Homo sapiens: one gene and its partners. The protein of the gene in region 3 interacts with the protein of the main gene of each other region in a biochemical or structural test. Each region holds a gene or a part of one and is shown on either strand. Other genes may lie near its edges. The genes, in order: AKIP1, CUL2 and SENP8.

Region 1 (3,827 bases), on a different chromosome or scaffold from region 3:
TTTTACAGAGAAACATTTGTGGAAAATAAGAACAAATGCCTTCAAATGTTTTGGAACCTGATCTCACCAAATGTGTATGTTTCGGAATTTCAGCAATGGTTTTCACTTTGTTAGCAGGAGGATCGTGCCCCTCCTGCTGCTTGAACAGATGGTGGAATTCCAGCAGGACCCAGTGCCAGCCCAGCTGAGCTGTAGGAACTGAGAGGTGAATACTTCACATTCTTTCCAACCACAACTATGAGTTCAGGCACAAAGAGTATCCCTGAAGCTTAGAGTGAAGGAAGAATACCAAGAAAACCTAATTTTACACTGAACCAAAATCTTGTGTGCCCTTCTTAAGTGTAAGAACATCTCAACTTAAAAATACTATAGACTCAATTCAAATAGCCCTCTAAGAACCATGTCAACTGGTTCATGGAGTTGCAACGGTGGTGAAACCCAGTGCGTAAGCAGTTCCGTACTCACAGGCTGGGATGCCTCTGGAGCATGCTCTGATATTTGATAGCTGCCTCCAGGACCAAGGGATGTCTTTTTTCTGTCTTTTCTCTGAAGAGACAAGTAGAACACTGATTTGTGCCCAAGCTTTCACTTTTGGATTGTAAAGAGAAGTTCTCTTCTACCTTATTAGGAGTTAGTAATTGTTCTGTCAGCTTTTTCTAAGTTGTCATCTAAGTCATTAAGGCATTTTTAAGTGAATTCTGTGAGGTATTTTTAGTCAGGTATTTACTATAATTTTCATCCTTACATGGGCTTTGGAATCAGCCACGCCTGAGTTTAAGTCCTATCTCTGCTATTTACTAAGACAGATTAACTTCTCTTGAACCTTGGTTTTCCAGTCTGTAACATGGCACTCTTGGATTGCAGGGAAAATTTAAAGTGCAAAAGTGGCACTTAGGCTCTCAATACATTCTCTTCTGTGCTTCTTCTAGGAGTGGGGGTGGTCCTAGAAGGGAACAGGCTGACTGATAAAGCCAATTTCCCTTAGAGGGAACTTACATTTTAAAGGGAGAGATGGGAACGACTCTTCCCCACATGTACCTAAGTGCACCCTTTAGGGTCAGGTGCGTTTAGGTAAGAGTTCAGGCTAGGCCAGAAAAGGGGGCTCAGGACTCAAGCTCTGGCACCACTACTCACCTCCCAGGCCAGGGGAGGCATGTGGGAGGTGCTTCGAGTGTGCACTCAGCCCTTGCTCATGTCCCTGTGCCCACTCTCCCATCCTTTTCCTAAACTTCCTCCCTCTAACACCCCAAAATGGCTGACAGACCAAAGAAGTCAGGAATCCAACTTAGACTCTGGAATAGACTCTGGACTTCAGTTTGCTATCTTTGAGTACAAGTAGGGTAGGTTAAAACAAAAGCAAAAACCTAGTCTCCTCAGAAACCACCACCACCACCTCCTCCTTTGAATCAGTTCAATAAGCAGAATCTTTGGCTTCCCCAGAATGACATGTGGTAAAAGGTAAGTTTGTAGTGAGAGGCCCGTAACTGTTATTACCTTTACAAAAAGTATTTTGTTAAAAGAGACCCCCGTCCCCACACTTCCCTTGTACTTTCTTTTTAAAAATTATGAAAGACAGGGGCCAGGCATGGTGGCTCACGCCTGTAATCTCAGCACTTTGGGAGGCTGAGGCAGGCAGATCACCTGAGGTCAGGAGTTCAAGACCTGCCTGGCCAACACGGTGAAACTCTGTCTCTATTAAAAAATACAAAAATGGGTCAGGCGCGGTGGGTTACACCTGTAATCCCAGCACTTTGGGAGGCCGAGGCAGGCGGATCACGAGGTCGGGAGATCGAGACCATCCTGGCTAACACAGCGAAACCCCGTCTCCACTAAAAATACAAAAAATTAGCCAGGCGTGGTGGCAACGCCTGTAGTCCCAGCTACTCGGGGCTGAGGCAGAAGAATGGCGTGAACCAGGGAGGCAGAGCTTGCAGTGAGCTGAGATTGTGCCACTGCACTCCAGCCCGGGCAACAGAGCAAGACTGTGACTCCACAAAAAAAAAAAAAAAAAAAGAAAGAAAAATACAAAAATTAGCTGGGCTGGTGGTGTGTGCACGTAGTCCCAGCTACTTGGGAGGCTGAGGCAGAATTGTCTGAACCTGGGAGGCAGAAGTTGCAGTGAGCCGCGATCGCACCACTGCACTCCACCTTGGGTGACAGAGTGAGACTCCCTCTCAAAAAAAAAAAAAAATTACCAAAGACATGACAGTTATCACCTTATAGTAAAAAATGTAATTATTAAAAATCTTTTCCCCCAGCCTGGGCAACATAGCAAAACCCCATCTCTATTAAAAACATTAAAAATTAGCTGGGTGTGGTGGCATGTGCCTGTAGTCCCAGCTACTTGGGAGGTTCAGGTGGGAGGATCACCTGCCCAGGAAGTCAAGGCTGCAGTAAGCCATGATTGCTCCACTGCACTCTAGCCTGGGTGACAGAGTAAGACCCTGTCTCAAAAAAAAAAAAAAAAAAAAAAAGAAAAAAAAAATCCTATCCCTAGATGTAGAAGAGGATATTTAGAGCTCTTTTAAAAAAAAATTAGAGAAAGGGTCTATGTTGCCCAGGATAGAATGCAGGGGATAGTCACAGGGGCGATCATTGCATACACCACATTCCAGGCTTGGAAGCTCTTTTCTTTAAACCTGCTGGAGAATCCCATGGCCCAGGACTGCAGGTTCAACTAAAGATCCTACAGTGGCATCAATCTTATATTTTTGACAACCTCCTATTTCATGTTCATTGCTGTAAGTTCTCTAAGGCTATGAATTTACACATTTCTGTTAAGCACTGTAATGCCAAGTCACACGGGCATCCAGTGACACAAAGTCTAGCAGGGGCTCTTGAATATAGGGTGTCATATCTTGGTAGACTGAAGGCATGGTGCAGGACAGTTGAGTACACTTACCTGACCATTCCCTATGTCCAAGCACATGTGCAGCTTCGACTCGCCTCTGTGATAACGATAGACATGGGTTGCCCCTCCTTCCTCTGGCACAGATGAATAATATTTCTAGAGACGTAATGTCAAAGATGTTAGCTAACCAAATTGTCTTGTCAAATTTTCAAAAAACCCTGATATTTGGGCAAAGTGCAGTTAAGGAGGGAGGCAAGAGAGCAAAGGTGAATTACCTGCCCTCTTGACAGGCCTCTGAAGTCATGCAACAAACCTTAGCCCACCCAAAGTGGCTGCAGAGAAAGAAATGCATTTGGCATCCCCGTGCTGCCACCTGCTGCCTCCATAGGGCAAGAACGCTGGCTAACTAAAGGTGGGCAGGACCATGCTCTCTGCCAGGTTAAACAAATTTCACATCTTTGCCCCCATGTCCAATGCACATATCCTTTCATTTCCTCCCCTAAAAAATGTGGATGAACGGTTCCATGTTTATTGTCTAAGTCTCAGACCAGGACACGGGAAGAGAGGGGTACATTTTCCTGAGATTTAGAAACACAGCAGGAAATGAAACAAACCCAAGAGCTGCTCTGCAGCCCTTTTCTCTGTGCTTCCTGCGCGTGGGGGAGTGGAGGGAGAAGTCTCTAATTTAAGAAGAATCTTCCGAAAGATCGGAAAACAGTTACATTTCTCTTGTCTGCTTCCTTCCTCCCCCTCAAAGTTAGCCTTAGACTTGCCCTTGATAATGACTAATGACATCACAGCCCTGCTTGTTTTGAACAGGGTAGGCACACTGTCTAAAAAACATGTGACCAGAAGAACGAGAAGCTGGGGAAAGCACTTGAGGACACAGACCTAAAGATGTGTTTTAGTGGCTGCTTCAAACTGTGGAGACAAACCCAGTACACAATTCTTAATTCTATCTCTAGAAAGCCAAGAG
Region 2 (3,600 bases), on a different chromosome or scaffold from region 3:
GCATTTATTTATTGGTATACTAATGTTTTGAACAAAAACTGTATTCACATGGCTCAAAATTTAAGATGTTAGTCTGGGCAACATGGTGAGACCCCATGTCTACAAAAAATAATTTAAAAAACATTAGCCAGGCGTGGTGGCGCACGCCTGTAGTACCCGCTGTTGGGAAGCTGAGGCCAGATGACCAGGTTGGAAGTGGCAGTGATCTGTGATTGCACCACTGCACTCCAGCCTGAGTGACAGAGTGAGACCCTGTCTCTAAAACAAACAGAAAACCAAAATATAAAATTGTCAGTAGGGAATAGAATGAAAATCTCCCTCCACTTCTTGTACCCTTGTCATCCAGCTTTCCTTGGAGCCAAACATTGTTAGCTGTTTCTTAGATCTCCTTGGAAAAAAATATTTGTGGACATATAAGCAAATATTGTTCCCACTTTGCAGAAACAGTAGTACACTTTACTTTGACATTTGTATTTTTTAGAGTGTTAAATAGTAGTTAAGTTATGAAATAGGATGAGAACACAGAGAATGTAGAAAGAGGATAAAACTGTGGAGTACTGCAGCATTTTCTGATTTGGTCCCTGCCCTTGTTAAGTTCATTTATTTATTTATTTATTTATTTTGAGATGGTGTTCGCTCTGTCACCCAGGCTGGAGTTTGTATTTTTAGTAGAGATGGGGCTTCACCATGTTGGCCAGGCTGGTCTCGTTAAGTTTTTGACCTACAGGTGTGGAGTTGTTTAAAAAGCTGTTTCCGGCCACGTACGGTGGCTCAGGCCTGTAATCCCAGCACTTTGGGAGGTTGAGGTGGGTGGATCACTTGAGCCCAGCAGCTTGAGACCAGCTTGGGCAACATGGCGAACCCTGTCTGTACAAAAAATACAGAAATTAGCCAGGTGTGGTGGTGCAGGCCTGTAATCCCAGCTGCTAGGGAGGTTGAGGTGAGAGGATTACTTGAACCCAGGAGGTGGAGGCTGCAGTGAGCCACTATACTCCAGCCTGGGTGACAGAACTAAGAGAGTTTCATTGTGTTGCCCAGGCTGGTCTCGAACTCCTGGGCTCAAACAATTCTCCCACCTCAGCCTCCCTAAGTGTTAGGATTACAGGCGTGATCCACTGTGCCCGGCCTTGTTTCTTGTTTCTTTTTTTTTTTTGAGACAGAGTCTCTCAGTCTGGAGTGCAGGGGCTCAATCTCAGCCCACTGCAGCCTCCACTTCCCGAGCTGGGACTACAGGCGCCCTCCACCACTCTCAGCTAATTTTTGTATTTTTAGTAGAGACAAGGTTTCACTATGTTGGCCAGGCTGCTTGTTTCTTTATTTTTATCTTTTTCAACTTTCATTTTAGATTCAGGAGGTACACACGTAGGTTTGTTACCCGGGTATATTGTGTGATGCTGAGGTTTAGGATACAATGATCCCGTCACTCAGGTGCTGAACATAGTACCCAACCGTTTTTCAACCCTTATGCCCTTCCTCCCTCGCTGTAAAAAGCTGTTTCTTTTTGTGAGACTTTACAAAAGTTTGCACTGTTTGTTTTGTGTTCTACCTTATCTGCCTGTTCTTTGTGTATTCTGGAAAAATGTCTGGCTGTGATTGAAAGCAATGTTTCATATGCACTATCAGTTTTTTTTTTTTTTTTTTTTTTGAGACAGAGTCTGGCTGTGTCTCTGGTTCCCGGGTTCACACCATTCTGCCTCAGCCTCCCGAGTAGCTGGGACTACAGGCGCCTGCCACCATGCCCGGCTAATTTTTTGTATTTTTCATAGAGATGGAGTTTCACCGTGTTAGCCAGGATGGTCTTGATCTCCTGACCTTGTGGTCCGCCTTCCTCAGTGTCCCAAAGTGCTGGGATTACAGGTGTGAGCCACACCGCGCCTGGCCCTAACAGTTATTTTTATTTTTATTTTTTTTTGGGACGGTGTCTCGCTTTGTCGCCCAGGCTGGAGCGCAGTGGCGCGATCTCAGCTCACTGCAAGCTCTGCCTCCTGGGTCTACGCCATTCTCCTGCCTCAGTCTCCAAAGTAGCTGGGACTACAGGCAGCCGCCACCATGCCTGGCTAATTTTTTGTATTTTTTTAGTAGAGACGGGGTTTCACTGTGTTAGCCAGGATGGTCTCAATCTCCTGACCTTGTGATCTGCCTGCCTCAGCCTCCCAGAGTGCTGGGATTACAGGTGTGAGCCACCACACCCAGCCAGTTATTTTTTATTATTATTATTTTTTGAGATGGAGTCTCACACTGTCACCCAGGCTGGAGTGCAGTGGCACAATCTCGGCTGACTGCATTCTCCGCCTCTGGCATTTAAGAGACTCTCCTGCCTCAGCTTCCCAAGTAACTGGGATTACAGGCGCCCACCACCACCCCCAGCTAATTTTTTTGTATTTTTAGTAGAGACGGGGTTTCACCATGTTGGCCAGGCTGGTCTTGAACTCCTGACCTCATGATTCACTTGCCTCGGCTTACCAAAGTGCTGGGATTACAAGTGTGAGCCACCAGGCCTGTCCAACTATCAGTTGTTTTTAAGTAAATTGATGACAGGATCAGCCCTAGAATCTTAATATTATGAGGACTTATGACTGGCTCATGTTAAATCTTGGAAAAACAAGCAGCGATTTGGAATGTTATGAGATTTATAACAAGTTATTGATCTATGAGATGTATGACTGAACCCTCTCTCAGTAATCAGTTAATCACAATATCTATTCAGAGTGATTTGGCTCTGTGCCTGGGTTTGAATCTTACTGGTAACGTATCTGTCATATTGCAGTTAGCATAATCTTTGGGTTACCTTTAAGAATGTATAGATTTCTATATCAGTACTTTATATTTGGCTTTTCATTGGGAAAGGCTTATTGGAGACAATCCCTTTGATTCTTAAAAGTTTTGAGACAGTAGTAGTGTTAGGTTAAGATTGTGGTGTTGGATCTGTAGAAACTTCCGGGGTGCCTTGAACCCTGTTGATTTTTCTTTTGGAGGAGGAGAGGTGGAATATTTCCTTTTGCTTTAAGCTTTGTTATTCTGGAGAATTAAAAATTCAGACTGATACTGTGTCTTGTTTGCTTGTTTGAGACAGAGTTTCACTCGTCACCCAAGCTGTAGTGCAGTGGCGCGATCTCAGCTCACTGCAACCTCTGCCTCCTGGGTTCAAGTGATTCTCCTGCCTCAGCCTCCCAAGTAGCTGGGACTATAGGTGTCTGCCACCACACCTGACTAATTTTTATATTTTTAGTAGAGATAGGGTTTTGCCATGTTGACCAGGCTGGTCTTGAACTCCTGACCTCAAGAGATCCGCCCTCTTTGGCCTTCCAAGGTGCTGGGATTACAGGTGTGAGCCACTGTGCCTGGCCTCTTTTATATAGTTTAACATTATAAATAATGTTAGTTACATCTATTAATTCAGTGACTTAGTCTTTCTCTATTGTAGGTTGCTTTTCAAAGAATGAAACATGGATTTGCCATATGTAAATTTTTAAAAATATCTCAGCCTTGTTTTAATTCAGTTGAAGGAGAGAAAGTACAGGCTATGCTCCAGGCTGGTTTTGAACTCCTTGGCTCAAGCAGTCCTCTTGCCTTGGTTTCCCAAAGTGTTGGGATTACAGC
Region 3 (3,827 bases):
ATATAATACATTTACAAAACATGTATTAATTGGCTATGTTATTGTTAATTGGCTATGTTATTGGTAGTAAAGTTTTTTTTTTTTTTTTTTTTTGAGATGGAGTCACACTCTGTCGCCCAGATTGGAGTGCAGTGGCACGATCTCAGCTCACTGCAACCTCTGCCTCCTGGGTTGAAGCGATTCTTTTGACTCAACCTCCTGAGTAGCTGGGATTACAGGCATGTGCCACCATGCCCGGCTAATTTTTTTTTGTATTTTTAGTAGAGACAGGGTTTCGCCATATCAGCCAGGCTGGTCTCGAATTCCTGACCTTGTGATCCGCCCGCCTCAGCCTCCCAAAGTGCTGGAATTACAGGCGTGAGCCACCGCACCTGGCGTATTTTTTTAGGGAGTCAAATCCTACACCTAGGCTGGGTGCTGTGGCTCACGCCTGAAATCCCAGCACTTTGGGAGGCCAAGGTGGGCAGATCACTTGAGGTCAGGAGTTTGAGACCAGCCTGGCCAACATGGTGAAACCCCATCTCTACTAAAAATACAAAAATTAGCCGGGCGTGGTGGGGCATGCCTGTAATCCCAGCTACTCGAAAGGCTGAGGTGGGAGAACTGCTTGAACCTGGAAGGTGGAGGTTGCAGTGAGCTGAGATCATGCCATTGCGCTCCAGCCTGGGCAACAGAGCAAGACTCCATCTCAAAAAAAAAAAAAAAAAAGTTATACCTAGAATTTTGACTGCATACGGGGGTTGGCACTCCTAGCCCCTGTGTTGTTCAAGGGTCAACTGTAACTATAAGAAATTCTAGCTTATGTGCTACATGTAAACGATTAGTTAGAATGAGAACTGGAAACTTGCCATGTACACAGTAAGCATGAATTTTAAATATCCTCTTGAAGCACAGAGATTAAAATTATAGCTAATGTTTTACCAAACACCATACCATTAACTGTATTATTTGGCTCCTTAATGAATATGCATAATGACAACAAATTATTTTTATATTAAAGATGAATTCAAAGAATCTAAAAAGTTACTAATTTCCAAGGGAAATACTTTTCATTTCAACACTAATTTTCTTTTTCTTTTTTTTTTTGAGATGGAGTCTCGCACTGTCACCCAGGCTGGAGTGCAGTGGCGCGATCCTGGCTCACTGCAAACTCCGCTTCCCGGGTTCACACCATTCTCCTGCCTCAGCCTCCCAAGTAGCTGGGACTACAGGCGCCCGCCACAACACCCGGCTAATTCTTTGTATTTTTAGTAGAGACGGGGTTTCACTGTGTTAGCCAGGATGGTCTCGATCTCCTGACCTCGTGATCCACCCACCTCAGCCACCCAAAGTGCTGGGATTACAGACGTGAGCCACCGCGCCTGGCCTCAACATTAATTTTCAAAAGATAAGATAAAATATTGCTTCCTCCTTCCATAATGGAACGTGACAGTGATTACGGTAGTAGTTAAAAGGAACTGTAATTTTAAAAACAGAGAATCATGAGACTAATACAAATGAAATTCATTCCTGATTCTGCCCTGCTATGAGCATGAGTGATATAACATGTGTTTGCCTGTTTCATAGCTTTAGCTTCAAGGGGTATGATAAAGATGAAGTAATGTTTACAATATAAGTTAGAACTTCTTTTGACTTCTTTTAAAAGGTAGTATGGGATAAGATTCTGGAAACCTGGGTCTAGTCCTAGTTTTACCACTGATTTGCTGGTATCATCTTGAGCAGTCATTTAAATGACTTTGTCCTTGTTTTTCTAAAAAGGTATACGCCTTTTTTACAGATGGCATATAAAATCATTTAATCATTTTTGTATGCCATCTGTAAAAAAGGCATATACCCACCTTACATACCCTAGAGAGTTGTAGAGAAGACCAAATAATTTTACTTGGAAGTACTAAAAGAGTTTAAAAAGTTGTACAATAATATTTATCAATTAGATGACATTAGTAAGATAATCAGAAAATCCAGCTAGAGCTCCAAACCAATCAAAGAAAATGAGGTTTGAAAACAAATATCCATTCACATTATCTTGTCTAAATAAAAGAATGACTAATTTAGAGGAGAAGCAAGACAAGTTGTGTGATGAAATTAATATGCCTGTGACCACCCAAAGTGAGACAAGTCTGATGGGTGTAGAATATTTGAGCCTAACAGACTCAACAGAGTTAACAGAGAGTTAGCTGTTATGCAGTGACCTGGCAGCACGACAATATTTCTGAAAATCACACAGCAATAAACTGTCACATGCAGATTGAGAGTGCAAAACAAAGCATATTATAAGAAAATAGTAATAATGCTGTAAAAGACAAGACTAGAATTATGACATCAATTTAATCAATTCTGACCATTAGACCAGTTATTTTACCACTTGTCTACACTATTAAGCAATAATTTTTGTGATATAACCATTTTCGTGTAACAAAACGCTGCAAAAACCTATATGAAAAATCAATACACCCCTCAAGAAAAAAAGCCAAAGTAAATGAAGGGGCATCCAACATGGTTTTATGTAGACACAGTATGTCATAATCTGACTATTTGAGAAACAACATAAGGCTACTTATGAGAAAAAAGAAAAAATATATAATAAGATGGCATGAATTAGGATCTTCTTAAGAAAAAAAGACTAGTGGAGAGACATAAACTGGAGCCAAGAATGAAGTTAATGAGGCATAGAGCACATTTGTTATGGGTGGGCCACAAATTTGGCTCTAAGCTTTTTGGCATCTGGCCAGAGAAAGGTAAACATTCACAATGTCCATAAGACAAAAACAAAGCAATTGCTCAGGAGAGGTAAAATAATTCTTTGTATTATAGTCCGATAGTTTTTTCTCAAGAGATTTTCATAAAAGACATGGTGCATCATAACAAATAGTGCCTCACAGTATCCTTACAACAGATGAAACAGACAGGATTGTTTCCTATAATAATCTTTACTATCTAGCCTTATGGCAAATGGGCACAGATCAATCAAACAAAAGCAATTTGACAGAGTTTAGGTAATCAGCTTGTCGATGTGACTTGATGTAAGAGTTTATAATATAAAGGCAGAATGACTGCTCCCTGGCTACAGCATCTGTCTCTCATGTCTTCAATAAACACTGCATACTTGTGAGTGCCAGGTCATATAGCTTGGCAAAAACCCGGAGACCTACTCTCTACACTGCCTGCTGAAATCACACCCAGTCTTCAACACCAACCCAACTAGGGAAAGGAACCTGCAAGAAGACTGCCTCAACAGTCAGTCATCTCTCACCTTGAAGGGAATGTCCACAAGCTGGGCTAAGATTTTCTTCAGAAATAGTTTTTGTGTTTTGTCTGTTTGATTTTTAAAATACCAAGCACATAGACAAAATGTTAATCAAGGCCTTAATTCTGTTCCATACAGCATGACAGCAAGTTTAACTCCAAAAATTCTAATGCAAATAGAACTCAACTAGCCTTTAGCCAAACCCACCCTTTGCCAAAAATAACTCTAAACTTCGTATTTGAAGACTTAAATTTTAGATTCAATTCTGTTACTCATTGGCTGTGTGATCATAAATAAATTACTAAATTTCCTTAACTCTCACTTTCCTTTTCTGTAAAGTGAAAATATTTTCTATTTTTATTTTTTATAGTCCAGAGTTTTTTTTTTTTTAACACCTACCAGCAGCCCAGGCTTCTTTCTATTATTTCTCACAAAGTGTGCTTCTCTGAGGCTGGGCATGGTGGCTCACACCTGTAATCCCAGTACTTTGGGAGGATGAGGTGGGCGGATCACTTGAGGCCAGGAGTTCGAGACCAGCCTGACCAACATGGTGAAACCTCGTCTCTACTAAAAATACAAA

The links.
Region 1: the proteins of SENP8 (region 3) and AKIP1 form a complex in vitro, tested with the Homo sapiens proteins (one study listed by BioGRID).
Region 2: of the proteins of SENP8 (region 3) and CUL2, one has a biochemical effect on the other in vitro, tested with the Homo sapiens proteins (one study listed by BioGRID).

Annotation. Positions count from the first base shown.
Region 1 is NC_000011.10:8,914,006-8,917,832, reverse strand, and holds part of AKIP1 (A-kinase-interacting protein 1), read right to left. Parts: intron 3,008-3,827; coding exon 2,903-3,007; intron 547-2,902; coding exon 466-546; intron 1-465. UniProt on the Homo sapiens protein: Enhances NF-kappa-B transcriptional activity by regulating the nuclear localization of the NF-kappa-B subunit RELA and promoting the phosphorylation of RELA by PRKACA.
Region 2 is NC_000010.11:35,083,742-35,087,341, reverse strand, and holds part of CUL2 (cullin-2), read left to right. Parts: intron 1-3,600.
Region 3 is NC_000015.10:72,135,231-72,139,057, reverse strand, and holds part of SENP8 (sentrin-specific protease 8), read right to left. Parts: intron 1-3,827. UniProt on the Homo sapiens protein: Protease that catalyzes two essential functions in the NEDD8 pathway: processing of full-length NEDD8 to its mature form and deconjugation of NEDD8 from targeted proteins such as cullins or p53.